2 separate regions of the Homo sapiens genome follow, and region 1 is linked to region 2. The links come from fine-mapping of genetic effects on gene expression. A gene starts in region 2. The other region holds a variant in brackets. All regions are shown on one strand. Distances are from middle to middle. Region 1 overlaps PPIL3 (peptidylprolyl isomerase like 3). Region 2 holds the start of STRADB (STE20 related adaptor beta).

What was found. PIP is the estimated chance that this variant, and not a neighbour inherited with it, causes the effect. A credible set is the group of variants that fine-mapping cannot tell apart.
Region 1: its variant is the best candidate, but not a certain one, in a credible set for the expression of STRADB in neutrophils (BLUEPRINT, PIP 0.86).

What each region holds. Positions count from the first base shown.
Region 1 is chr2:200,864,203-200,876,742 of GRCh38, reverse strand. It overlaps PPIL3 (peptidylprolyl isomerase like 3), which reads left to right. Exons shown (of 7, transcript NM_130906.3): 7 at 5,222-5,836. The coding sequence ends at 5,348. CLK1 (CDC like kinase 1) reads left to right here and starts at 12,085. Exons shown (of 13, transcript NM_004071.4): 1 at 12,085-12,179. RefSeq lists an enhancer at 12,366-12,540. The variant C/T (reference allele first, on the strand shown) is at 6,988.
Region 2 is chr2:201,442,099-201,458,994 of GRCh38, reverse strand. It overlaps STRADB (STE20 related adaptor beta), which reads right to left and starts at 7,255. Exons shown (of 12, transcript NM_018571.6): 1 at 7,057-7,255; 2 at 4,143-4,249; 3 at 131-211. The coding sequence starts at 4,154. It overlaps TRAK2 (trafficking kinesin protein 2), which reads left to right and starts at 7,537. Exons shown (of 16, transcript NM_015049.3): 1 at 7,537-7,645. RefSeq lists a silencer at 6,685-7,364 and enhancers at 7,395-7,924, 7,328-8,182.

The sequences.
Region 1 (12,540 bases), 580 kb after region 2:
GAGACCAGCCTGGCCAATGTGGCAGAACCCCTGTCTCTACTAAAAATATTTTAAAAAATTAGTTGGATGTGGTGGCACACACCTGTAGTCCCAGCTACTCAGGAGGCTGAAGCAGGAGAATTGCTTGAACCTGGGAGGCGGAAGTTACAGTGAGCCGTGATCATGCCATTGCACTCCAGCCTGGGCGACAGAGTGAGACTCTGCCTCAAAAAAAAAAAAAAAAAATGAAAAGAAAAGAAAGAAAAGAAGAGTGGTGTGAGAGCTAAACGTACCTGGAGTTTAAGTCTACCACTTAGCAACCCTGTGACCTTGGGAAAGTTATAATCTCCCTGAGCTTTATTTTCCTTATTTTGTAAAAGAGGCCAGTAATTTTTCAATATTGTTATGCAAATTAACATAGTATATCTATTTTCTTTTTCTTTTTCTTTTTTTGAGACGAAAGGCTCTGTCGCCAGGCTGGAGTATGGTGCAGTAGCACAGTCATGGCTCATTGCAGCCTCAACCTCCTGGTCTCAAGTGATCTTCTCACCTCAGCCTCTTGAGTAACTGGAACCACAAATGTGTACCATCATGCGCAGCTACTTTAAAAAAAAAAAAAACAAAAAAAACACTTTTTTTTTAGAGACATGGTCTCACTATGTTGCCCAGGCTGGTCCATTTTCATTAATGATAGCATTTCACAGCAACTAACAGATCTGAAAAATAGTGGCTTAAACAAGATGGACTGGCATGGTGGTTCCATTTTGTTACCAGTGTTCTAGGCGCCTCTGTCATAATATTGGCAGCACAGCTCTTATCAAAACTTCTGTGTATCAGGGAGGAAAGGGGAGGAAAGACAAAAGGTGCTTGCCAGCTGATTCACCTTTTTTAATTAACAGAACTTTCCCAGGCCTGTAATCCCAGTGCTTTGGGAGGCTGAGACAGGAGGATCACTTGAGGCCAGGAGTTCAAGACCAGCCTGTGGAACATAGCAGAACCCATCTCTATAAAAAAAATTTAAAAATTAGCCAAGTGTGGTGACACACACCTGTAATCCCAACTACTCAGGAGGCTGAGGTGGGAGAATCACTTGAGCCCAGGAGTTCCAGGCTGCATGAGCTGAGATCACACTTCTGTACTCCAGCCTGGGCAACAATGATACCCTATCTCTAAAAAAAAAAAGATAGAAAAAAAGAAAAGCCGGGTGCGGTGGCTCACACCTGTAATCCCAGCACTTTGGGAGGCCAAGGAGGGCAGATCATGAGGTCAGGAGATCAAGACCATCCAGGCCAACATGGTGAAACCCCATCTCTACTAAAAATACAAAAATTAGCTGGGTGCGGTGGTGCGTGCCTGTAATTCCAGCTACTCAGGAAGCTGAGGCAGGAGAATGGCTTGAACCCTGGAGGTGGAGATTGCAGTGAGCCAAGATTGCGCCACTGCACTCCAGCCTGGTGACAAAGCGAGACTCCGTCTCAAAAAAAAAAAACTTTCCCAGAAGACCCAGAACTTAGTAATGTGACCACTCCTTACCTACAATGGAGGGTAGAAAATGTATTTCAGCCACATTGCCACCCTTACTAAAATTAGATTTCTCCGAGTAAGAAGAATGGCTCCTAGGAAGGTATTTCACAGTTTCTGCCAGGGTATCTATTAAGAGTACTATGTCTGGGAGTTGCTTTTATAAATCAGTGGGAAGTCAATTTGTCTGTTCGTTCAACAAATAATTATCATGCTTAATAAACCAAGGCACAATTCTAGAGTTTGTTCTATTTAATAGTTTGGATGCCAAATTAGGTTAATTAAAAATAGAGGACTCCCAGTCTAGGTAACATAGTGAAACCCCGTCTCTACAAAAAAATTTAAAAATTATCCAGGTGTGGTGGCTCACACCTATGGTCCCAGCTACTTGGGAGGCTGAAGTGAGAGGATTGCTGGGCTCAGGGTGTCAAGGCTGCAGTGAGATCTAGACAGATCTTTTCTTTTTCATTCCATATACATGTATCTAATTTACACATTAATAATAATCAAGGAGAAAAGAAATATTACAACATCTAGTAGTTTTTTTATGTTTGTAAATAACCCAGTTTCCCTCTTATTTTCTCCCTTAACCAACATCATTCAAAATTATTGTTCAGTTATTACCAGGACTCATTTTACTGGATTTGCGACAAAACTGTAGAGTTTAGAACAAAGATTAACCTTAGGTTCATTAATTCCTTGTTTGTTGTATACAGATGCACACACATTTTTCTGGGAAGATGATCCAGTAACTTTCCTCTAGTTCTCCAAGGGGTCCGTTTCCCATATACTTGACTCTACTTAACTGCCTCAGTTCTACCTGCTGGGTTTTTTTAACTTTTTACCTGAGACCTATGTTTTCTACCTCCTCTGTTTCTCTTACTGACCTAGAAGGTGGGATAGCCTTTAAGACTTATAATTTAAAGACTTAAATGTCTATATTTAGGGGTAAAATCAAAATGTTTTGGTTGAAGTACCCATTTTGTGAAAATGCAAAATAAAATGCAAATCTGCTAATTTTTTTTTTTTTTTTTTTTTGAGACAGAGTCTCACTCTGTCGCCCAGGCTGGAATGCAGTGGCGCCATCTCAGCTCACTGCAAGCTCACCCTCCTGGGTTCACGCCATTCTCCTGCCTCAGCCTCCCAAGTAGCTGGGACTACAGGCGCCCGCCACCGCGCCCGGCTAATTTTTTGTATTTTTAGTAGAGACGGGGTTTCACCATGTTAGCCAGGATGGTCTCAATCTCCCGACCTCGTGATCCGCCCGCCTTGGCCTCCCAAAGTGCTGAGATTACAGGCGTGAGCCACTGCGCCAGGCCTACAAATCTGTTAATTTTTTAAAGTACATACCAGTGGTTGAGAATCCCTAATCTGAAAATTAAAAATTAGGAACTTTTTGAGCACTGACATGATGCCACAAGTAGAAAATTCCACATCTGACCTCATGTGACGGGTTGCAGTCAAAATGCAGTCAGATGACCAGGTGCAGTGACTCACGCTTGTAATCCTAGCACTTTGGGAGGCCAAGGCGGGCAGATCACGAGGTCAAGAGATCAAAAGCCACTCTTTCTTAGCAAATGTTTTAGACTGAAATTTCCAAAACTTGTATTTGAAGAATAGCTCTCAATATATTTTTTCTTGGTGGTAACATGAAGTGGGATTGCTGGAGGCTGTTAACTGTCAGTCTTCTCTTCTCCTATTTTTATTACTTCTTGTTGTTATCCAGAAGCAAAAAGTAGAAATGCCATAATTAGGCCAGACGTGGTGGCTCATGCCTATAACCCCAGCACTTTGGGAGGCTGACGTGGGCAGATCACTTGAGGTCAAGAGTTTGAGACCAGCCTGGCCAATGTGGTGAAATCCCATCTCTACTAAAAACACAAAAATTAGCTGGGCATGGGGGCATGTGCCTGTAGTCCCAGCTGCTTGGGAGGCTGATGCAGAATTGCTTGAACCTGAAGGAAGAGGCTACAATGAGTCGAGATAGTGCTACTGCACTCCAACCTGGGCAATGGAAGTGAGACTCCATCTCAAAAAAAAAAAAAAAGAAAGAAATACTATAATTAAACAATTAACTGCTGGGCTTGGTGGCTCATGCCTGAATCCCAACACTTTGGGAGGCCAAGGCGGGCGGATCACCTGAGGTCAGGCCAGACCAGCCTGGCCAACATGCTGAAACTCCGTCTCTACTAAAAATACAAAAATTAGCCAGGCGTGGTGGTAGGCTCCTATAATCCCAGCTACTTGGGAGGCTGAGGCAGGAGAATTGCTTGAACCCAGGAGGAGAGGTTGCAGTGAGCCGAGATCACACCATTGCACTCCAGTCTGGGGGACCAGAGCGAGACTTCATCTCAAAAAAAAAAAAAACAAGTACAAAGTGGAGTGGTCACCTACTTTAGGACTCTCATTGTAGGGCAGTATTGCTAATAGTGTCATCTACATACTTTCTCCATGTATTTCCTGTAGCAAAGAAATCTTTATGACTAGTGTGTTGTAATAAGACATACATATTTGGACTTCATCCGTGGTTTCCAGCATAGTTCTTTTAAAAACCTTGCAATTTCCTGAGTGACAGGAGTGAAAGGAATATTTTATTGTTCATAATAAACCCCATTCAACCATACCTGAGTTTATGCTAATGAGGTGACTCTTGGTGGGGTTCTAGATAGCTTCAGTATGGAGGGCTGGTTGCCAGAGGAATCAGCCATGTATTTTTAGAGGGGTGGAACATTCAGTGACCTCCTATTCTTGACCTCTGGGAAGGAGAGAAGGGCTGGAGATTGAGTTCCAGTCACTAGTGGCCAGTGATTTAATTAATCGTGCCTACCTAATGTGCCCTCCGTAAAAACCCTAAACAGGGTTTGAGAGCTTCCAGGTTGGTGAACACAAGTAGATACTAAGAGGGTAACACACCCCGAGAAGAGCATGGAAGCGCTGTGCCCCTCTCTCAGACTTTGCCCTATGCATCTCCTCCATTTGGTTGTTCCTGAGTTGTAACCTTTATAATAGCCCATAGTAATAAATAAAGTGCTTTCCTAAGTTCTATGAGCCATTTTTGAAAATTATTGAACAGAGCTGGGGGGCATGAAAAATCCCAAATTATATCATGGTTAGTCAGATAGTACAGATCACAATCGGGACTTGGAACTGGCATCCGAAGTGGTAGGGGCTGTCTTGTGGGATTAACCGGGGTCTCTGTTCACTCCTTGTAGTTAGTGTCACAATTAAATTATAGGGCCAGGTGTGGGGGCATGCATTTGTAGTCCCAGTGAGATCCTGTCTTTAAAAAATTAAATAAAATTTTGAAAAAATAATCAAGTTGTGGGATACCCAGAGAATTGGAGAACTGGGAAAACCCACACATTTGGTGTTGGAAGTATGAAAGTGTAGAAAAACAGTTTGTTTTCCCTTTAACTGGTTATATTAGTCCCATTTGTAGCTGTTCTCTGTCACTGTATGAATGGGGTAGAATATAATTTTAGGTACTATGGTGGAAATATTCCTACCCTTTGTATTGTTGACTAAGGGCATAAAAGTAAATTATTTCTGAATTTTGATCCATATCTATGATGGAAAATCAACATTTTGTTGTACATTCAACTAGAGAACTCAGAGATCTGTAAGACTTGATTATTTTTTAAGGAGACTGTAATTGTCATAGATATGGATATCATGTTTCAATTTAAGGAAATTTTCATATGTTATGTTGTTTCTCTTTCAGGGTAATAGATGGTCTGGAAACTCTAGATGAGTTGGAGAAGTTGCCAGTAAATGAGAAGACATACCGACCTCTTAATGATGTACACATTAAGGACATAACTATTCATGCCAACCCATTTGCTCAGTAGCTATGATAGACCTGGACAAATAACTTGACAAATTGCTGGAACACACTTATTGTGGTTTACCCGGTTTTAATTATGTCAGAGATTGCATCATCCTTCTGCTTGTTTACAACTATGATCTTCTATGAAATGGTGGTACCAAGGGGCGCCCAACAGCTTTTATCCCCATTCTTAGAGCATATTCTTTATTATAATGATTATCCAACATATTTCTTTAATTTTAATACAAAAAATACATCATTTAATTTTTGTTACATATGAACATTCATTTTTAAATGCTCAGCCTCAAGTGCAGGCATTTTTGAGTGGCCTGATTACATATTCCTCCCACAGCAAGTCCGTATCCTGGAAGTGTTATTTTATAATAAAATTTAAAAAGTTTTAAAGAATTAAATCGTAGGACAAATTAATTAAAATATTGTGTAAAATTACCTTCAGGCTATGTGTATAAGGTATATATGAAACGTAAATGAACTTCATGTTTAAATTTGGGTCTCATCTCCAAGATATCTTATTATGTATATGCAAGTATCCCCAAATCTGAAAATTTGGGTATTCCTGAAACTGATACTAACGGTAAGAGCTCTACCATTAATTATTCACTTTATACAGTTAGAAAGAGGAGGGACAGGATAAAAAGTTAGTCTGGAAAGGCCAGCCAATCCATTTGCTATTTTCTCTGATTTTTTTTTTTTTCTTTTTGAGACGGAGTCTTGCTCTTTTACCCGGGCTGGAGTGCAGCGGGTCACTGCAACCCCTGCCTCCCAGGTTCAAGTGATTCTCCTGCCTCAGCCTCCCAAGTAGCTGGGACTACAGGTGCACACCACCATGCCCAGCTACTTTTTGTATTTTTTTTTTCAGTAGAGACGGGGTTTACAGAGACCATGTTGGCCAGGATGGTCTTGATCTTTTGACCTCATGATCTGCCCACCTCGGCCTCCCAAAGTGCTGGGATTACAGGTGTGATCTTTAGGTTTACAGTAAAGGCTCTCAGAGGTCCTGGAGGCCGAGTGTGGTGGCTGACGCCTATAATCCCAGCACTTTGGGAGGCCAAGATGGGCAGATCACGAGATCAGGAGATCAAGACCATCCTGGCTAACATGGTGAAACCCTGTCTCTACTAAAAATATAAAAAATTAGCTGGGCATGGTGGCGGGTGCCTGTAGTCCCAGCTACTTGGGAGGCTGAGGCAGGAGAATCACTTGAACCCGGGAGGCAGAGGTTGTAGTGAGCCAAGATCGAGCCATTGCACTCCAGCCTGGGTGACAGTGGGAGACTCCATCTCAAAAAAAAAAAAAAAAAAAAGATGTCTTGGAATACAGTAAACACTCAACATTTCCCAACTGATTTGCTCATGGACTTTTTTTTTTTTTTTTGAGACATAGTCTCACTCTTGTCACTCAGGCTGGAGTGCAATGGCACAATCTCGTCTCACTGCAACCTCCGCCTCCCGGGCTCAAGTGATTCTCCTGCCTCAGCCTCCCGAGTAGCTGGGATTACAGGCATCTGCCACCATGCCTAGCTATTGTTTTTTTGTGTTTTTAGTAGAGACAGGGTTTCACCATGTTGGCCAGGCTGGTCGTGAGCTCCTGACCTCAGGTGATCCGTCCACCTTGGCCGCCCAAAGTGCTGGGATTACAGG[C/T]GTGAGCCACCACACCCGGCCTGCTCATGGACATTTTTTAAGGCATATCTTTTTTTTTTTTAATTTTAGATTCAGCAGGTACATGTGCAGGTTTGTTACAAGTGTATAATGCATGGTGCTGAGGTTTGGGCTTCTACTGATCCTGTCACCCAGACAGTGAACATAGTGCCCAAAAGGAAGCTTTTCAGCCCTTGCCCCTGCCCCTTCCTCCTTTTTTGGAGTCCCCAGTGTCCACTGTTCCCATCTTTTTGTCCATGTGAATCCAAGATTTAGCTCCCATTTATTGTAACTGAATGCAGGCTGGGCTGCACGCCACTTGCAAAGTCAACAACAAGGAGGAGATGCAGGAAAAGGAAAGTGACTTTATTCCAGAGCTAGCAGTGGGGAAATGGCCAAAGCTAGTACCTTAAAGAAATCATTTTGAACTTTAGGCTGGGGAGAGGTGCTTAAAAAGGGAACTTAGAATGGGAGGCATGCGGGAGTGGTGCAGGGTTTCAGATCTCTGTGGCTTGCTGTAGTGGCTATCTTGAGTTGTGGTCCACCTGGAGTGGGGGCTGGCATCATCTCAACAATGGCTGGGTTGTTGACTAACCACCTTAAGGTAATCTCTGGAATTTTGCAGCTGGGTCTCCAAGCCTGGTATATGTCATGATTAGCCCTTGATGGGCCAGGCACAGTGGCTCACACCTATAATCGCAGCACTTTGGGGAGGCCAAGGTGGGAGGATCACCTGAGCCCAGGAGTTTTAGATCGGCCTGGGCAACGTAGTGAGACCTTGAATCTACTAAAAATTGAAAAAAAAAAAAAAAAAAAAAAAAAGCCGGATGTGGTAGCCCCAGCTACTTAAAAGGCTGAGGTGGGAGGATTGCTTGAGCTAGGGAAGTAGAGACTGCAGTGATCCATGGTCGTGCCACTGGACTCCAGCCTGGGCAAGAGAGTTAAGACCCTATAGATAAGAGTGTATAGTGTAAGTTTAACAAGTGTACAGTTAGATAAATGTGCATAGTATAAGGGAGTGTGAGGCGGGAAAGGGAGGGAAACGGTTTTAACAAGACTACATTCTGAAATTAAGAAAGAAAGGGCCAGGCACGGTGGCTCACGCCTGTAATCCCAGCACTTTGGGAGGCTGAGGCAGGCGGATCATGAGGTCAAGAGATCGAGACCATCCTGGCCAACATGGTGAAACCCCGTCTCTACTAAAAATACAAAAATTAGCTGGCCGTGGTGGCACGCGCCTGTAGTCCCAGCTACTTGAGAGGCTGAGGCAGGAGAATTGCTTGAACCTGGGAGGCAGAGGTCGCAGTGAGCCGAGATTGCACCACTGCACTCCAGCGTGGAAACAGAGACTTCTGTCTCAAAAAAAAAAGGAAAAAAAAAACTTTAAAATGCATTTCAAGGCTAGGATACTTGGTTATATTACAAGTGAGAACATAAGGCATATCTCTGAAAATATTGAAGAGTGGAGCTTTACAGAATATCCATTTGAAAAATGCAATGAACTAGTTAAAGGCACCAGTTTGTGGAGTTCTGGTCTGTGTTTGAATCACAGCTGTGTCCCTTACAGTGTAACTTTAAGCAAGTTAACATCTTCAAGCTTTAGTATTCTCATCCATAAATAATACCTCAGAAGACAATTGTGAGGGTTAAATGTGTGTAAAGCTTCTGGCATGTAGTAAGTAAGTAGAAGCTGCTGTCCTAACATTCATGTCCACCACAGGGCTCTCACCTCATCAAGCCATTCATTGGGTTCTACCACTGATTTCATCAAGACCATATTCTGCCCACTGCCTAGATCACAGTGGTTGGATTTGGGTGTTCCTAAAACTTATACCAGCCGAGCGTAGTGGCTCATGCCTGTAATTCCAGCCCTTTGGGAGGCCAAGGCGGGCAGATCACCTGAGGTTGGGAGTTCGAGACCAGCCTGACCAACATACAGAAAACCTGTCTCTATTAAAAATACAAAATTAGCTGGGCGTGGTGGCACATGCCTATAATCCCAGCTACTCGGGAGGCTGAGGCAGGAGAATTGTTTGAACCCCGGGAGGCGGCGGTTGCGGTGAGCTGAGATCGTGCCGTTGGACTCCAGCCTGGGTGACAAGAGCAAAACTCCGTCTCAAAATGTTTGTCTTGGCATCAGTTCTTGGTTTGTCTCATTTCTTCCAATGGCTGGTCTAATTAATGTTTTGATTCTTTCTTGACTAGTTTGGAGTTAGCTTACAGCTATCCTCTTGTCACCATTTATATCTTCCACTAAACTGAGGTGCTTTTTACTAGCAGCGAATCTGTATCCGTACAGGTCTGCAGCAACCTCAATTCTTGCCTCCTCAGAAGAAAGAATTCGACTGAGGGGCAGAAGGAGAGGGTGAGGCACGTTTTAGAGCAAGAGTGAAAGTTTATTAAAAAGCTTTAGAGGAGGAATGAAAGAAAGGGAAGTACGCTTGGAAGAGGACCAAGCGGGCGACTTGAAAGATAAATGTGTGGCTTGAGCTTTTGACTTGGCGTTTTATACACTGGCATACTTCCAAGGTCTTGCATTACTTCTCCCCACTTGCCCAACTCCTGAGATCTTATTGGGAAGCTGCTGCTCACCAGTTTCAGGTGTTTTCTATTAGGAGACTGCCGTTCCCTGGTGCCAGCTGTGACCAATTACTACTTCAGCAAGAGAGTTAATAACCGCCTGACCATCTCACCTGATGGTTGCCCGACACTCCTAGTGTGTGTTTGGGGGAGCCATCTCCTGCTTTGTTCATACCTGACTAGCTACCCACCGTAACAGTGCCAGTTATACTAGTGACTTTTTTTTTTTTTTGAGACAGAGTCTCACTCTGTCGCCTGGGCTGGAATGCAGTGGCGCAATCTCGGCTGACTGCAACCTCTGCCTCCAGGGTTCAAGCAATTCTTTTTTTTTTTTTTTTTTTTTGAGATAGAGTCTCACTCTATTGCCCAGGCTGGTACGCAATGTCGCGATCTTGACTCACTGCAACCTCCATCTCCCGGGTTCAAGCAATTCTGCCTCAGCCTCCCAAGTAGCTGGGATTACAGGTGAGCACCACCACGCCTTGCTAGTTTTTGTATTTTTAGTAGAGACAGTTTCAGCATGTTGGCCAGGGTGGTCTCAAACTCCTGACCTCATGATCCACCCACCTTGGCCTCCCAAAGTGTTGGGATTACAGGCGTAAGCCACCGCACCCGGCATACTAATGACTTTACATTTTGTTTCACTTTTAAAATTTTAATCATTTAAGTTTCTAGACTTAGTATTAAGGCCTTTCTTTGGCCAGACCTTGTTTTGCCACTTTTTTTTTTTTTTTTTTTGAGACGGAGTATTGCTCTGTTGCCCAGGCTGGAGTGCAATGGTGGATCTCGGCTCACTGCAACCTCTACCTCCTAGGTTCAAGCAATTCTCCTGCCTCAGCCTCCCGAGTAGCTGGGATTACAGGTGCCTGTCACCACGCCCGGCTAATTTTTTGTATTTTTAATAGAGACGGGGTTTCACCATCTTGGCCAGGCTGGTCTTGAACTCCTGATCTCGTGATCCACCCGCCTTGGCCTTCCATAGTGCTGGGATTACAGGCGTGAGCCACTGCGTCTGACCTCCTCCAAGTTTTATTCTAAACTCTGCCACTTTTAATTAGTGGTGCAAATATGTTTTTTTTGATTTTAGGAGTGTTAGTCCAAACTGCACCATTTTGTAAATCCTGCCCCCCCACCGCCCTGCCCCGTTTCCCCAGCCCTGCCTGGTCTCCCCCACCCTCTATTTTGCAGACCTTGGTCAAAGTGAAACATTCCACAGGGGTTCGGGCTGTGAGAAACATCCTGCCTAACCACCTGACCACAAAACGGACAAAGGCGCAACTAAAGAAACACCCCTATCATATTCTGCCGGGAGAAAGTGCAAAGAACACCACATTCCCGGGGGGTCGTGGTGGCTCACGCCTGTAATCCCATCACTTTGGGAGGCCGAGGCGGGTGGATCATCTGAGGTCAGGAGTTTCTACTAAAAATACAAAAAGTAGCGAGGGGTGGTGGCGCACGCCTGCAGTCCCAGCTACTGGGGAAGCTGAGACAGGAGAATCGCTTGAATTCAGGAGGCGGAGGTTGCAGTGAGTGGAGATCGCGCCACTGCACTCCAGCCTGGGCGACAGAGCAAGACTCCGTCTCAAAAACAAAACAAAACAAAAAAAACTACCACCACATTCTGCGGGAACAAGGGCCAGAACCGCCTCATTATGGGAACATCTTAACATCCTGCAGGGCAGCAAGTCAGCAAGCCATATGGCCCAGGCCCCTCCCGCCCTTACCTAAAAGTACCCCACTGGTGGGCACTGGCATTAGGCTGGTTCCCCACTTCTGTAGGTCTTAGGCTGGACATAAAGCCCGCAGTTGCTGTAGAGCTGCCACTCTGTATCTTTAACGCTGGCCTTCCCTTCAAAACTTATCAAGGAGCTTATTTTTAGAATGTGTGCTCAGTTACGGCCATAAAAGTATCATAGACAGGGAGGTATGCTGGCTGCCCACGTTGGGCCTGATGCAGGCACCATGAGGATCAAGGTGCAGAACATTGATTTCTGTTGGCTCACACTGATCCCATTAGTAATTTGAAGCCATCTGACGCTAGTGGTATATTTTATTTATTTATTTATTTTTTAGAGACGGGTCCCGCTATGCTGCCCAGGCTGGTCTCGAAATCCTGGGCTCAGCGATCTGCTCGCCTCGGCCTCCCAAAGTGCTAGGGTTACAGGCGTGACCCACCGCGCCGTGAAGTATTAGTTTTAAAGCAATTGTTTTAGTGGTCGCTAACAGGGTACATGCTACTGTGTATACTGATTCCCTCACTTTTCCTTGTTCACAAGTTGTTCCTTGTTCTAGAGTTCAAAAACTATCAGTGAGTGGGGACAACACGCCGACGGCTTCCTTTCATCCGCCACAGCGGGCTCTGGTTCCCTCCCTGGCGCCTGCGCCCACGATGGTCGCGCGCGCGACACGCCCGCCCTTTCCGCCTGCTCGCCCCGTGCATGACCCGCCCCGCGGCGGAGACGCGCTCGCTGCGTCATCAGTGTTTTCGAGACGAGTCTCGACGCAGCAGCTGTCAGCTCCATTTTGTTGTTGGTGCGCGACGCAGTCAGCTGCGTGATTCCCGTGATTGCGTTACAAGCTTTGTCTCCTTCGACTTGGAGTCTTTGTCCAGGACGGTAAGACGCAGGAGGGAGCGGACTAGGTGACAGGGCCGTTCCTGTGAGCCTCGCGGGCGCCTGGCGATGCCCCCTTTTCCTGCTTGTTTGCTGCCCGCCGTCCCCGGCGCGACGACTGCCTGCTCCCTTCACTCCCAGGCTGCACAGTGGCGGCGCGCCCCTCTTTCCTGCGCGGCCGAGCCTGTCGCCGCCGGATCCGGCCTGCGGGGGTAGTTACGGTGTTTGCTAGGCCGGCCGCCCTCTTGGAGCTTCTGCCCTCCGCTGAGGAAGCGGCGCCGCCTGACGCGGGACGGTCGGGCGGGCGCCATGTTGTGAACCGCCTCGGCGGAGCTGTAAGATGGCGGCTGGGCGGAGGCCGGCT
Region 2 (16,896 bases):
AGATGAGATCTCACTATGTTGCCCAGGCTGGTCTCGAACTCCTAGGCTCAAGTGATTCTCCTGCCTTGGCCTCCCAGAGTGTTGGGATTACAGGTGTGAACCACTGCATCCAGCCTAACCATTTTCTTACCAAGTATTGATGGATACTGGTTTCAGACTGTTTTTCAGGTCTGAGTGATTCAACTTGTGTTCTTGAAGTGCAGAAGCAATCCTGGAAGTCAGAAATGCATTATATAAGTGAAAAATAAGTTACAGGATAAGCAGGGGTGGTATGTAGATACAAAAAGGTCTAATGACTACAGTGGGGAAAAGAGAGGAAGGGCAACTTGCAGAAACTTGGAATTGAAGCCAGGATCCACATCATGAGGAACTCAGCATGGGAGAGAAGGGAGAAGTGGCTGGGCATGCAGACAAACTTCATATATGTGAGAATTTTATTTGGTGCTATCACTGATCCTTGCCCTCTTTTCTTGATGTCATAATAATTCATTTTAACTGTTGGTGTTAATTTTTAACTCTGTCTGTCAACATCACTGAGGTTTTCTTCTGAATATTTAGCCAAAGATTATTCTGCTGAATTCATTATAATTATTTTTATTTTGATCCTCAGCTATCTTAAGTATAGAAACCATGTTTATTCACATTAAGCCACATATTGAGTGAAAAAATAATTGTTTTTAAAGGTGATAAACATCTCTAATTATAACTCAAAGCAAATTAAAAGAGACTTACTTTTATTATCGCAATTTACATTTTTCTGCATATTAACCCATGGTTCTATTATTATTTATTGCCAATAAAGAAATGTAACACCTACATGTGATTTATCACATCATCAATCAGTGGGGTGAAGCTGACATACTATTTAGGAAGAAAAAGTATGTCAAAAGAAAAGTATAAACACATTGTATGAGAGGCTTTTATAACAAGATAACTTCAATATTTGAAAAAATTTCTTTCTTTTTTTTTTTGAGACGGAGTCTCAGTCTGTCACCCAGGCTAGAGTGCAGTGGTGCAATCTTGGCTTGATGCAACCTCTGCCTCCTGGGTTCAAGCAATTCTCCTGCCTCAACTTCCTGAGTAGCTGGGATTACAGGCACCTGCCACCACGCCCCGCTAATTTTTGTATTTTTAGTAGAGATGGGATTTCACCATGTTGGCCAGGCTGGTTTCAGACTCCTGACCTCAATCAAGTGTTCCGCCCACCTCAGCCTTCCAAAGTGCTGGGATTATAGGCGTGAGCCACCACAGCCATTTCAGAATTTTTCATTTCAAGCATCTTATTTTTATATTAACATTAAAGTACAATATCAAATGAGTCTCTTAAGATATGTCTACCTATGTCTACTTAACACTTTGTAGTCAATTACTTAAATATAAATTTCCTTTTAAGATATGCCAGAATTTCTCACTAATCAAACTAGTCATTGTCCCAGTTAGCCTTCATTACTGATTATTTTAACTTGAATTCCTACAGTCTGTATACTTTATAAATCTATTACAAAAATTTGGTATATATTCCCACTGTTTTATGTAAAACTCACCCTGAAGAATAGACGCTAACAATGTCAAGATAGCTGTACAACTGATTCCTCTGCAGAGTTTCTAATGGCTTCCTAGGGTGAATAACATTTATAATAAAACAGTTTTTGAAGATACTTATTACTGTTGTTCATATTGAAAATATCCACCAGCTGGGCAGGACATTTATATATTGTTTGGTATTTATATATTTTTACAACATTTAGCTTGAATTTTTCACAACGACCATTAATACCACTGTGCAAAAGAAGAATTAACAGCAGGCCTAAAACTGCTATTCTTAGAAAATAGCTGCTTATAAGGTTGACCCTTGGCTAGTATCTGGGAACTGGGATTTTGCAGAGGTTCCCTTCATAAGAATCGCTCACTGTGTCTAAACTGTTTGTGCAAATAATACAGTTTATGCTGAACACCTGGCTTTTTTTCTGGGAGACTGGAATTTTGTTACTTGCTAGCAGAGCACGCCTACGTGACAAGTCCCCAATAAAAACCTTAAGTCCAAGTCTCTAATGAGCTTCCCTAGTAGACAACATTTCACATGTCACAACTCTGGGGGAACTGTGCATATACTATGGAACTCCACTGAGAAAAGATTCTTGAAAGCTTGTGCCTGGTTTCCTCTGAACTTCACCCCACATACCTTTTCCCTTTGAATATTTTTGAATATAATTTCTTTATCCATTATCATAATAGCCAAGTAAAAAGTAGTTAGACCTTACAAAGAAACTGAAAGAAGATATTTTTACATATGCTGCTCCTTTGAAAACAGCATTTCTTAGTTCTCAAATAGAGGGTAAAACTTGAATGGGGAGGAATCCTTAAGTAAAAGTATCAACTTTATCCCAACTGCACAAATTTCTCGTTTAAGGAAAAAAAGTAAATATTTCGATTCAAAGAATTTAAAATATTTCACCATTGCAGAAAAATGTGATTTAAAGTTACAATCATTAACGATATAAATCACCCATTATCACATTCTATTATTTTTCACAAAACCCATAATTATGGAATAATAGGCTAAGATATTCTTTTTCCAAAATTTGAAAGCCCTGGGCAACACACAGCCCTTTGAATCTCACAATTCTCGCCTATCAAATGAAGGGAATAGACTGAATGCCCTTTCACATCTTTTCCAACTTAAAAATTGATATAAAATTGTAAATCTTAAGTAATCCTTTAGAGTAAGGGTCGGCAAACTATGGTCCATGAGCCAAATCTGACCCACCACCTGTTTTTGTGAGTAAAGTTTTACTGGAACACAGATACATTCATTCATTCATTTATATATTGCCTATGGCTGCTTTCATGCTAGTATTTCAGCAGAAAAGTAGCTGTAACAAAGACCAAAGGGTCTGTAAATACTATCTGGCCTTTACAGAAAAGCTTGCTGATCCCTCCTTTACAGAATAAAACATTTCACCTCCGTGTATTTTCCAGATATATAAAGCTTCTCTTTCAAGTGGTAATGCTTTACTTTAAACATGTAAGTAACTGTGTTATGTATTTTCCATATTACTAACAATCCAGTCTTCTAACTTCATAGTTCTGCCTCTCAGCCTTGGTAATTGATAGAATAGATTGGCAGGTATGAGTCTGGCTCCAACTTTTTGCAATCTTGGACAAACTGAAAATGAGGATAATGCCACCTGCCCTGCTAAACTTACACAATTTGAAACTATGAAAGAAATATATGAAAGTATTTGTAAACTATAAATCATCATACAAATATACTCATCCTTTTTTTTTTTTGAGACAGGATCTCCCTCTATCACCCAGGCTGGAATGCAATGGCATGATCACAGTTCACTGCAGCCTTGATCCCTTGTTCAAGGGATCCTCCCACCTTAACCCTCTGAGTAGCTGAGACTACAGGCATATGACACTACGTCTGGCTAATATTTTATACAGACAGGATCTCACTATGTTGCCTAGGCTGGTGTTGAACTCCTGGGTTCAACTGATTCTCTAGCCTTGGCCCCTAAAAATGCTGGGATTACAGGTGTGAGCCACTACACGTGGTCTACTCATTACTTTTTTAAAAACCACATTTTAATATAAGTATTCCCTATTCAAATATTATTATTATGTATAAAACAGGATGAAAGTCCTCAAGCTACTTAATCTAAAGTAGATACCACGGATCTAAATATAAATAGAAAACCAGTTGGCAGCTATACCTCATATATACATTGATCCAAATGATTTTATTTCGGTTAAGTCAAAGGGGTTATTTTTAATACTGTTTGGCTTGCTTTTGGTCAGATGGAAATTTGTAAAAGGAATTTCTGAAAGATTTAAAAGATAAGGCATAGCTAACTGGTGTGGGTGGCATATCAAAGTATAACACCTATGAGAAAAAGTAGATATGGGACAAAAGATTAGAATAATGAACATATTGAAGTATACGAGAAGTTCTTTATGAAAGAAAGAAAAACTCAATGAGAATGTAATTCATTTCTCAAGTCCAGAAGTCAATCAGGTCAAAACAATATCTCAGAGCATAAGAATATCCCATCAGAATATGCCTTTTATTATGGCTTGGCATTAACATCCAACTACTCTGACAGAACAAAATCAGATCTATATTTACAAAAACTTACCAAAAGAGACATTGAATCACTTTAGTTCACACAGAAAGTGACAAAAATCCATCTATTCCAAAGAAGGCTTTTGTTTTATCTTCCTTTCAAGATGCAGATATATCCTACTATAAAAAACAAAAGCAAAATAATTTAGATTCACATAAAAGTTCCTTAAAGAACCAGTTGCCTTAAACCCATCCAATATTTAGGCAGCTATTCCCTGATACCCAATATTTAGGCAGCTACTCCTTGACACAAGGAGACATTCCTGAAAAGTATCTTTAAAGAGCATTTATTTTTTACTGAACATTATTTGTGATCTGACATCACAACCAAGAAGCAGAGTGAAAACAAAAAGAAGTCCTGAATATTTCCAAAGCCTCAATATGTTTGCATTTCTCCTTCCCTATCTTTTCTATACTGTTTTTTGTTTGTTTTTTAAAGAACGCTGAGCAAATTTGAAAGCAATGTAGAAAACCAATTTTTGGCCCACTTTTGATATAAACAGTGTCACTTACAATAAACCCCAAGAATTTTCAATGGTTCCACATATTACAACTAAACTTTGAGACTTTCCAAAGCCCTTTCTTATTGGATTAATTACGTATTAAATCATTTGGGGTCCCTGACCAGCAAATATGGGAAAGAATCAGAATAACAGACTAGGAAATTAATTCAAGGAGATACAAAAGCACCATCCACGGTTTCCAGACCTTTACTAATAGAAAGGGTGGCAATCTTGTAAGTTTGTGGGTTCAGAGCATCCCTTTACATCTAACCAACATCATCTCTTTCATCTAAATTGTGCTTCATTATTTCAACTCCCCAAATTTGATGAACCCATCTACAAATATGTGAGCAGGATGAGAAAGGGAAGATTTTGTAAACCATAAAAACCATAAAGCAATATCCAATTTTATTGCTAAAGAAAGAGGTGAATTTATTCAGGATGTTCACTATGAACCAAAGGTAGAGATTGGGAGGAAGACGGACCTGAAAGGCTGTGATCATTTAGCCACCTACCATTCATTACCGTCAATTTAAAGCACTGGAGTTTGCTGTGCTGCAAAAGGAGGAAAGCAATGCCTGCCCTGCCAACCTTCCAGGGTGAATGAAATCAAATGAGTTACATCTCAAAGTGCCCCTAATTAGCAAACACTGTATCAGCTTGAACTATGCTTTGAAAGGTACACTCAAATGTACTGATGGCAGTACAAAACTATAAGGTTTATTTGGAAAGCAGGTTGTCAAATGTTTCAATAACCATGAAAATATTCATACTTTTTGACCCAGTAAAATTCCCCGGAGTGATCTATTCTAAGGAGATATCCAAGTAAATGAAGAAACTACACATCATAGTCAATACACTGTTAATCTGTTAACAGCCAAGTAATCATTACACAAGTGTTTAATGAGTGGTTACCATGGGTCAGGCACTGTGGACACCCGCTGGTAATCAGGGCAGACAAGACCCTGGCCACTTGTAGCTGACCTTCCCACAAGCAGAAGGGTTATGGATGTCATGATTAACCAAATTTTCTGGTTATCATGATTTTGTATCCTGCTTTTTTCACTCAATGTCAGCAAGTTGTTACTGATTTTGTCTTAATAATGTGAAACTCCATTACGTTGTCTATTTTTTTCTCTTTTTCAGAAAAGCTCAGAAGAAACAGACACAATCTGGTAAGAATTGTTAGTAATAAAAGGGTTGTCCCTATGGGGTGGTTTAATCTCAGAGATTTTTGCCTTAGATACACCAGACTATTAAGAGATAATTTTACAAGACATTTTGAGGTCAAGGCAGCAGCTGCACCCAGCAAAGGGGTGGGGGTGGGGGATTTGCTGTTATTATAATTTTCTCCGGCATGCTCTTTCACGAGATATGAATATAAACCCTTTCTTAAAAAAAAGTCATATTTAAGAGACTTATATTTCGTATTCACAAGTACATCAGTGCAGTCCCTTACACTTGTATCCAAAACGCTAATTACGATAAAGCTTTATAAGTAATTTCAGTTTGTTCCATAATAGAATGGTTCATGTGAAGACTTTGATCTGAAAGATTAACACTTTCTGTAGAAACCAAAGGGCGCATCTTCTAGAACACGGGTTTTGAGTTAATTTAGGCATTCAACAGAGGCCACTGTTACAGGGAATGCAAAAATGACCCGATGTAACTCTTTGTTGAGCTTTAAAATTACTGTAATTTTCAAAGTGATCTTGGGAACCCATAAAATCTTAACAAAGATCATAGCGACGCACAGTTCAGGAGAATTTTCCAAGCTTAGTGACTCATGCGTTCAACAAATCTTTACTGAGCGCCTACTGGGTGCCAGGCACCGTGCTAAGCAGGCGCCGTGTTACACATCCGTATCAAGTTTTGGGGAAAAGGTACTTGACAAAGACCCAGCAGGGAAAAACACAGCGTTGAATTGAAAAACCGAAGACAAAACGACACTCGAGTATTTAATTTTGTAAAAGGTTCCTTCCTAGTCCTGCTATGGGGGACTTTGCAGCGAACTTGCAGAAGGCGGCAGATAGAGCTGGGGTCTGAGGGTGTCTTCGATATGGCAACTCCCCAAGCCCGAGAGCGCGGCCAAAGGTGAGGGGTGCGGGGAGAGGGCGCCCGGGCGGCCTGGGCCCCGCGCACCTGGCACGGCCGGCACGGCCAACCCGGCAGGCACCACTGGGCGGGCTGCGAACCCGCGGCCCGGGCCCCGCTGAGCCCGAGCTGCACTGGCGCAGTGGCTGCTCGCCACCTCGGGCCGCATTCTTGCCACGGCTCCCGCCAGCCGCCGGTGCTCGGGCTGGAGGTGGGCTAGCGCGTTCTGGCCTCTGGCTTCCCGGGCGTGCGCGGACCAAGGCTCACTCCCTCACACGTCCCCCACCGGCCCCGACACCTTCCCTTCCCGGGCCTGCCTCCCGTCTTTACCCTAGCGGCGACCACGGCCAGCGACTCTCTTCAGGCTGCCAGCGGTGCGGACAGGGGCGGGCGCCAGAGCCCTGCTCGCGGAGGGGCGAGGCGAGCGCTCTAGGCCCGCTCCCGGCGCGGGGCGCGGGAGGGCGGCGAGGCCGCGACCGGGGCCGTGGGCTTGGAACTCTGCACCAGTCCCAGGCTACCCGCTGGGAACGCATTCGCCCCACCCGCGCCGGGGTCGCGGCCCCGCCTCCCTCCCCGGGGCTGGGCAGCGAGAAGGCGGGGCCTTCGAGCTTGAGGCGGGGCGGGCAGGAAACTACAATTCCCAGCAGGTCTTGCGCTGGGGCCGTGGAGGCCGCTGGGAGAGTGGCTCTCCTTTGGCTTCCCCAATTGTGTGGGGGCTGCCATTGACCCGGTGTCGCCGCAGAACCGAGGTCGCCGAGTGATGATGTTGTGAAGTCGCCCGCCTGTCCCTGCCACGCCCGGGCGGTTGCTGGCAGTGGGAGCAGCGGCAGCAGCTTCGGCTGCTGCTTTCAGGCTGCCGCTGCATTAGGGGCTTCCTGAGGAAGCGCGGGCGGACGACAGAGGATGCCGAACCACTCCAGTGAGTAAGCTGTCCGCGCAGAACCCGAACTTGCCCTTGACAACTTCCCCGGAAAGCGGAGGGACCTCCTCGTCCCAAGGTCCTCCGGTACCCGGAGGTCACGCGCGGACGTCGGAGCCGGAGGCTGGGTGCTGGAGGGCTGGGTCCGGGTCCCGCGGTGAGGCGTGGGTTGTTTCCTAAGTGTGGGTGCAAAGTAATGGGCGCTAGGCGCTGGCGTCGGTATTCAGCCCAGCTGCACATCTGAGGCTTGGCAGCTTCTCATAGCGCCTTATCCTCTGCCATACAGCATCCATCTGGAGCCCTGTCTTTTAGGATGAGTGGCTTTAGGGTCGGGCATTAAACCTTAAGCTTCAGTCGCCATCTGTGATGTAAGTGGGAGGAGAGGGTATTGGAAAGAGCTCTTTCTGGGTCAAATAGAGTTGGGCTTTTCTTGCAATTGATTTTGAGCCAGATGCCACATATCTTGAAAAAGAAAAACGGCTGACTTTAGTTTGAAGCGTAAATAATAGATATTCGCACATGTCCTTTTTAGTAGCAGCCCAAAAATTGAATTTCAACTTAAAAAAAAATCTGCGTCATAATAATAGGGATGTTACTTGCTCTTGCTCATGCACCTTTTGCTTAGACCTGCTGTTTCTACGTCAGAAAAAAAAAAAAAAAAGGTAACTTCACAGGATATTCATCAAGTTGATGGAATGGACCATAGGAACAAAAGGAACACTTTCAGTTCTTGGTCTCCGTAAATCTTCCCGACCTTTAGATCTTTGCTGTTGACTTGGAAGTCTGAGGTACAGTAGTCTCCAAATAGCAGGTTAATGGTGGTGACATGACACTTAAAAACAAATTGTGAAGGACATTTGGAGGTGAGAAAGGTCAGGGATGAAGACATTTTATCATCCTAGCAGTTATTCCAACTTTCTTTTCTTTTTTTTTTTTAAGACAGAGTCTCGCTCTGTCGCCAGGCTGGAGTGCAGTGGGGTGATCTCGGCTCACTGCAACCTCCGCCTCCCGGATTCAAGCGATTCTCCTGCCTCAGCCTGCAGAGTAGCTGGGACTACAGGCGCGCACCACCACGCCCAGCTAATTTTTGTGTTTTTAGTAGAGATGGGGTTTCACCATGTTGGCCAGGATGGTCTCGATCTCTTGACCTCATGATCCACCCGCTTTGGCCTCCCAAAGTGCTGGGATTACAGACGTGAGCCGCCACACCCAGCTCCAGTTTTCTATTTTTAAAATTAAGTAATGTCCAGCAAGTCTCAGACATTTAGCAAGCACATACCATGTGAAAGACAGTGTTTTGTTATCTTACACACTTATTCATATGATGGAAGAGGTTTGTTAGAAAGAACCAACATTTGGCCGGGCGCTGTGGCTCACTCCTGTAATCCCAGCACTTTGGGAGGCCAAGGAGGACAGATCTCCTGAGGTGGAGAGTTCAAGAACAGCCTGACCAACATGGAGAAACCCGTCTCTACTGAAAGGAAATACACCAGCCTGGCCAATATGGTGAAACCCCGTCTCTACTAAAAATACAGAAATTAGCCGGGCGTGGTGGCACGCGCCTGTAGTCCCAGCTACTCGGAGGCTAAGGCAGAAGAATTGCTTGAACCCGGAGGCAGAGGTTGCAGTGAGCCAAGATTGCACCCCTGCACTCCAGCCTGGGCAACAGCGAGACTCCATCTCAAAAAAAAAAAAAAATTAGCCAGGCATGGTGGCACATGCCTGCAGTCCCAGCTACTGAGGAGGCTGAGGCAGGAGAATCGCTTGAACCCAGGAGGCGGAGGTTGCGGTGAGCCAAGATCGAGCCATTGCACTCCAGTCTGGGCAACAAGAGTGAAACTCAGTCTCAAAAAAAAAAAAAAAAAAAAAGAACCAACATTTTAGTATTTGCAATCTGCCAGGCACCCCAGGTGGGAGCTCTTCATACTTTAGCTCACTTAATCACTTTAACAAACCTATCACACTAATCTGAGGCTCAAAGACTTGCTTATGTAACAAGGGGAGATTTAAATCTAGATCTGCCTTGCTTCCAAGTCACAGATCAGGTAACTAATACGTACTTCAGAAATTATAGACTTTAAAGGTTGAGTGGTTAAAGAGGATTGTCTAGTGTTATTGTCTAAGACTGGTTCCAACACACACCTTGGACATCTGGAATAAGTCCTGAACCCCTGCTTTAGTACTTTTGAACAAACTGATTCTCTCTGCCTACAATTCCCATTTCTTACTGAACTGCTCAGTAAGACCCGAAAAGCCCATTCCAAATCCATCTCACTTATGTAAGAAATTATAAGACTGGACTTTTATCAAAAGGTTCTTTTCAGTTTACAGGTTTTGTGAGTCTGCAAATAAAAATATGACCCTGCTGGGTGTGGTGACTCACACCTGTAATCTCAGCACTTTGAGAGCCCGAGGCAGGAGGATGACTTGAGACCAGCCTGTTCAACATAGCAAAACCCCATGTCTACCAAAAATAAAAAATAGCTGGGTGTGGTTGTTTGTGCCTGTAGTGCCAGCTGAGATCAAAGGATCCCTTGAGCGATGATGGCACCACTGCACTCCAGCTTGAGTGACAGAGTGAGACGCCATCTCTAAAAAAAATTAAAATACGAGCAGAGAAGTGTTATTCTCCACTGAAACTTTCTTTGCTTTAGTGCCCCAAATATGTTAAATACCAGTATAAGGAATGAGACAGATAATGTCTTATTTCATGTTTATTGTGAGCTCTCATTATATTATCTGTACCAGTTTTGAACCTCTTTAGTTACCATCCTGTTTAGTTGGTAAGAAATAGGAGGCAAAAAGGTAATAGTCACATTTAAATGACTTAGTAATTAAAAGAACTAAATTATTCATAGTTGAGTCATTATCTGTTCAGATCTGCAGTGTTCTTATAATAATAGGAAACATTTATGTAATACTATGTGTTAGATAATGTTTTACCTATATTAACTTATCCTCACAATAGCACTGAGGTGTTTTTATAGATAGGCAACTAAAGCAAAGAGAAGATAGTAAATATACCAAAGGTCATGTAGCTACTACATGGTAGTACTGAGTGTCAGAGAAGACAAGATCAAAATCTGTAATCTAACATTTATTGAGAACCTACTGTGTACCAGCCCCACAGCTGGGTGCTTTCATTATGAGTTAGTCATTTGTCTTTACAACTACCTTATTTAAAATGGAAGTTCAGCATGTAATGACTTGCTCAGAGTCACAGATAAGTAAACTGTGGAATCAGGATTTGAACCCATGCTTGTCGTACTTCAAGGTTCCTGTTCTTTCTTTCATTTTCCTTCAGTGATCAAATCTTTATTAAACACCTTCTGTGTGCCACACACTGTGCCAATGCTAGGAATTTAGTCTTTGCTCTTAAGGAATGTAGTTTGAAGAAGGAAAGAGACAATTAACATAGTGTGTTGAGCAATGGGATCACAGCTTGCCGAGGTACTTTGGGAGCACAGAGAAAGAACACTGAAGTTACTCTGGAGTGGGAAGGCTTGGACCAGTCTTGGGAAAACAAATGGGAATTAGCCTGGGCAGAGAAAAGGGGAAGGGGTTGTTATGGGCTGAATTGTGTCCTCCCAAAATTATATTGAAGCCCTAACAGCCGTAACCTCAGAATGTGACTGTATTTGGAGACAGGGCTTTGGGGTGATTAAGTTCAGATGAAGCCGTTAGGGTGGGTTCTAATCCAGTCTGACAGTTTTCCTTATAAGAAGGAAATTTGAGCACAAAAAGAGACACAGGAGTTGCACACACAAAGGAAAGACCATGTGAGGATTCATCAAGAAGACCAAGGAGAGAGGCCTCAGGAGAAACCAACCTGCCAACACCTTGATTTTGGACTTCCAGACTCCAGTATTGTGAAAAAATAAATTTCTGTTGTTGAAGCCACCCAGTCTGTGGTAGTTTTTTATGGAACCCCTAGCAAACTAACAAATAGGTGTTCTAGGCAAAAGGAATGACATACAAAAAGGCTTTAAGCTGTGGTTAGGTGATAGAAGTTGACATACAAAAAGCCTTTAAGCTGTGGTTAGGTGATTGAGGTTTTTTGGTGAAGAGATAAATGTTGAGAGAAATGAAACTGGAGACTAGGCTGGGGCTGGATTAGGAAGATTTTACATGAGATGCCAAGGGGCTTAAACTTTATCCTAAGGAAGATGGGATGGAGGTGGTTTGTAGCAGTGGAAAAGCATTAGATTTGCATTTTAGAAAGACTAAGACTTGTAAAGGATAAATGAAAGGTAATAAGACCGGAGACAAGGTAACCAAGGTAGCTAGTGCCACAGGATGCTGAACTAACAGTTTTCCCAGAATATTGAAATGTCTAACTAAAACAGAGCCACTGTTAATATAACATTATAAAGGGCACAGCTAACCCTTAGGGTGTACATAAGAAGATAGGGAAAGAATTTGTATATAGCTGTTTGTACCCAGAGGCTGTCTTTATTTTGACATTTTGCTTTTCCTTGTATAGATCATAAAGCTTTATACAACTATCAGAATATTCAGATTTTTCCACTCTAAAAAGTGATCTTATGTATTTAATAGACACTTTTATGGTGCTGACACAGATTTAAGCCAAATTCTTTGACAACCTTTTGAAATACCTACTATTCATTTTAAACGTAAACATACTGAAGCACAGAGAGATTAAGTAGCTTGTCCAAGATCACATAGCTAACAGGCAGCAGAGTTAAGATTCAAACTCAGTCTGTCTTTAGAGTCTGTGTTCTTGGCTTTACACTGTGCTGTTGCTATATGATATTTATCTAGCTCTTTATTTGTGAAAAGAGGGCAGAGTAATACAAAAATAAGTATGTTTGCTGTAAGAGGCATGCAGTTTATCAGAGGAGATAAGGAACAGCTCTAAGGTTTTAAAAACTGTTTTAGAGAAGAGCAGAAAGTGTTCGGAGGCAATACCTCCTTCAAGTTGGGGTTTCTGGGAAGGCCTGTTGGGAAAAGTGGCATTGAGCTGGTGTGGGAAGCATGGCTAGAATTTGGATATGTAGAATGGGGAGAGGACATTAAAATTAGAAGAAATAGCATGGACAGAGTTACAGGACTGAGAATTTCCTGGTGTGTCTAGGAAGCTAGTAAATGCAGTTCTTTCTTTTGGCTGGAATATGTTGTGTGGTTGGGGAAGATGGAGAAGCTAGTTTGCAGGGAGGGGAAATGTCTGGGGAAGAGAATTCTCGGGGAGTGAGGGGCAAGAGAAGTTGTAAGGTTTCAAGCCTGAGTAATTGAGGCATATGCCAGATGTAGTTATCTTTTAGGAGAGGAAAAAGTTCATCTATCCCCAACTCATCAGTTAACAGGTCCTGTTTTCACTATCTCACAAACCCGTAAATCCTTCTTAAAATTTCCATTCACCTAGTTTATACCTTTATTAAAATAATCCATGCGTAAATGTGATAAAATTTTCTAATTATTTTTGTCTCTAATCTCTCCATTCCAAAATTTATCCTGCATCCTGCATTTACATTTATTTCTCTCAAATGTCACTTCTATTTAGAAATGTGTTCCCTGCAGGATCAAGTTCAGACTTCTTAATCTGAACTAGTCAAATTTAAATCTCCAAATACCTTCCCCATAATTCTTCCCACTCAAATTGGTCTGTATATGCTGCCAACCTGGCTCTGTCTGCTACTTGCTGTTGGATATTATCATTATTATTTTCTCCTACCAGATAGTCTCCTCACCTATCCAAATCTTTTCCTCCTTAGGGAGTCCACTTAAATCTTACATCCTGTGTGAAGCCAGACCACCTCAGCTAGAAAAGAGCTCTCTCCCGACAATTCTGTTGTAACACTCATCAAATATTTATTATCTGGTACTATCTTATTTTCTTAGATTTCTTAGCTCATTGGATATTAGATCTAATCCAGATCATTAGAGCTGTCCCTTTTGGAGCTTAGACTTCTTAAATCTTTAACCTCCCTTTGGGCAGAGGCTGTTGTATACTACTATTTATCTTTTTTTAGTACTTTTGGTTTAATTCAAGTGGCATTTGTTGAAAGCTGTTCAATGAACAGCTGTTTGACCAGTTGTTAATTGAGGTCATTGTATTGAAATTTTCTTTTTCAACTGGCTGCTTAATATTTATATATAAGTGATGTTCTAGCTTTATTCTTAGCTTTACTACTGACTCACATAACCTCTTGAAGATACCCTGTTTAACTACCCCGTATTGTGGTTTATTCATGCTAGAAAATGAGCGTACAAAGTCTGCTGGTGGTATAGCAGTGGAACGAATTCATTTTGTAAAGATCCTTGAGGTCCTTGGAGCTTATCTATATTTATTTGTCAGTGTTTGCCAAACTTTGAGTTCTTTCTTTTTAGAAAGCTTTTTGACAAGTCACAAAAAAGGAAGGAATGATTAAATAGAGTCTAATTTAAGAGTGTTATACTCTATTGTGTAACAATGGAGTTGATGAATTGTGCATGTTAATGGTGAAAGAATTCCCCCACCAGTTTAGCTAATAGTTCATTTCAACACCAATTATTTATGGAGTTGCTTGAGCTTCTGGCATATTATATTCCTCTTCTGATCAGCAAGGAGGAGAGAGAAAATGGCACCCTCTCTTTCCTTTCAAGAAAAAGTAAAGTAGCCTCCTCTGCCTACCTTTGTTCTCTAACTTGGCATCTAATTTGTTTCTTTCACACATATATTATAATTTTGTATATTATTACAAATATATTATTACAATTTATGTGAAATTATAGTGTGAAAGAAACAAATTAGATGCCGAGTTAGAGAACAAAGGTGGGCAGAGGAGGCTACTTTAGATCAAGTAGACTGGTAAGTTTTAAAATGAGACTTAAATGTGAGAAGGAGTTAGCATATAGAGAACAAGAGAGAAAGAGTATTCCAGGTACAGTGAACAACAGTTACAAAGGCCCAGAGTTAAGAGAGTGATGAAGAATTAAAAGAAGTAACAAAAGGTCTGTGTCTCTGTGACTGAGTATGAGCAAGGAGGAGAGTGGTACAAGATGAGGGAGGAGAAGCAGGCAGGGGCCAGACTAGGCCAGACCTCACAGACTGTGATGAGAGGTGTGGTTTTATTGTCGTTACTATGAGAACCTTTGGATTTTTTAAGTATTATTATTATTTTTTATTTTTATTTTATTATTTATTTTTTTGAGACAGAGTCTCACTCTGTCACCCAGGCTGGAGTGCAGTGGTACGATCTCGGCTCACTGCAACCTCTGCTTCCCGGGTTCAAGCGATTCTCCTGCCTCAGGCTCCCAAGTAGCCAGGACTACAGGCACGTGCCACCATGCCTCCTAATTTTTGTATGTTTTTGTAGAGATGGGGTTTTACCATGCTGTCCAGGCAGATCTCGAACTCCTGAACTCAAGTGATCTGCCCACCTTGGCCTCCCAAAGTGCTGGGATTACAGGCGTGAGCCACTGCGGCCGCCCTGGATTTTTTTTAAGAAGGAGTTTAGCTTTAAAAACACTATTCTTGCTGCTTATAGAGAATGGAGAAGAACCCTGTTTAAGGCCATGATTAAGCATGGAGCCTTGTTAGGAGGTTTGTTGGTTCATAGTCTAAGAGATGATGATGGCTTGAACTAGGATGGTGGAAGAGAGGATGGAGAAAAGTGAGTAGATTTGAGGTATATATTGGTAGTAGGGTGTACAGGATTTGTTAATGGATTGGATGTGACAGGATGAGGGATGGAGGAATCTAGTATTCAGTGGATCATAATCAGCCTGTGGGAAATTTGAGTGGAGTCAAGAAGTCTGTCTGAAGAGCCAGATTGGGAGTCACTAACACTAAAAAGATAATTTAATCTGTGGTAGTGGTTGGTTGGCAAAAAGGTAATGAAAAAGCAGCTACAACAAGAACAATACAAAACGTGGTCACAGTTGGAACTCTGGAAAACACTAACATTTAAAGACCAAGGGGAGGGAATGGGATGATCCAGTGAGGAGTTTGAGAATGAGCATTGTAAGATCTCTCTCTCTCCAGGAGAGCCAAGGAAGGGAAGTTGAAACAGGGAGTAGTCAACAATATAAACCAGAGATGACATCAGATAACAATTAAGAAGTCATGATTGGATTGATTAGCAGGGACTGTTGATGACCCAAGGAGGGTGGTTTAGGATGAAATCAGGTTGTAGTGGGGTTGAGGTATGAATGAGAGGTGGGAGAGACAAAATGAGAGTATTTGAAGAAGCTTGAGTAAGGACAGAGGGTAGGTAGAGGGGAACTCAAAGACTTGGGAAAGGTAGGGGTTTTTTTAATTGTAGTTTTTAATAAAATAAAAGAATTTGAGCATGTTTAATAAGCCAAAGAAGAAGGTGAAACTGATGGAGGATAGGGATAATTAATGGAGCAAGGTTTAGAGAAGGCAGGAATAGGACTGTTGAGTTATATTTAATTACTTTTTAACTGGGTATACATATACACATGGTAGAAAAATTGAAAGGTATATAATAAAAAGTAAGTTTCTCTCTCCTTTCTGTCTTCCAGCCACCCAGTTCTTTCTCTAAGAGGAATACTAATTTACACTCTGATCAACAAGTGTGCAAGTGCATAACTGAGATTATGTTTGTCCATAATTCTCAGTTTGGAGCGAAAGCTAGCTATAGATTACATGGATTTATCAGTGGGAGGAATGAGAATAAGAGAAATGGAGAACAGATAGAGGGTCAGAGATAAGTGAGAAAAGATGTGGTATGGAATTGTCTCAGAAAAGAAAGGATGTTTAAGAGGATAATGGGGGGCGTGCCTGTGGAGTGAGGCCCACAGTTGATGACTGAATTTGCCTCATCCCTATTCCACATGGTGTTGTGACCTTTTCAGAAGTTAACTGCCTCTTTATGTTTAAAATGCAAGTCAATTTAGAAAATTGATTGCTCAAAAATTCATCATTTTTGTAAAGTAAATCATGTTTGGGGTCCAAGCGTCAAATCTCTGCTCTCTGCCCTTTTCTTTTTTTTTTTTGAGATGGAGTCTTGCTGTCGCCCAGGCTGGAGTGCAGTGGTGCGAACTCGGCTCACTGCAGGCTCCGCCCCCTGGGTTCACGCCATTCTCCTGCCGCAGCCTCCCGAGTAGCTGGGACTACAGGCGCCCACCACCTTGCCCAGCTAATTTTTTGTATTTTTAGTAGAGACGGGGGTTTCACTGTGTTAGCCAGGATGGTCTCGATCTCCTGACCTCGTGATCTGCCCACCTCAGCCTCCCAAAGTGCTGGGATTACAGGTGTGAGCCACCATGCCCAGCTTGCTCTCTGC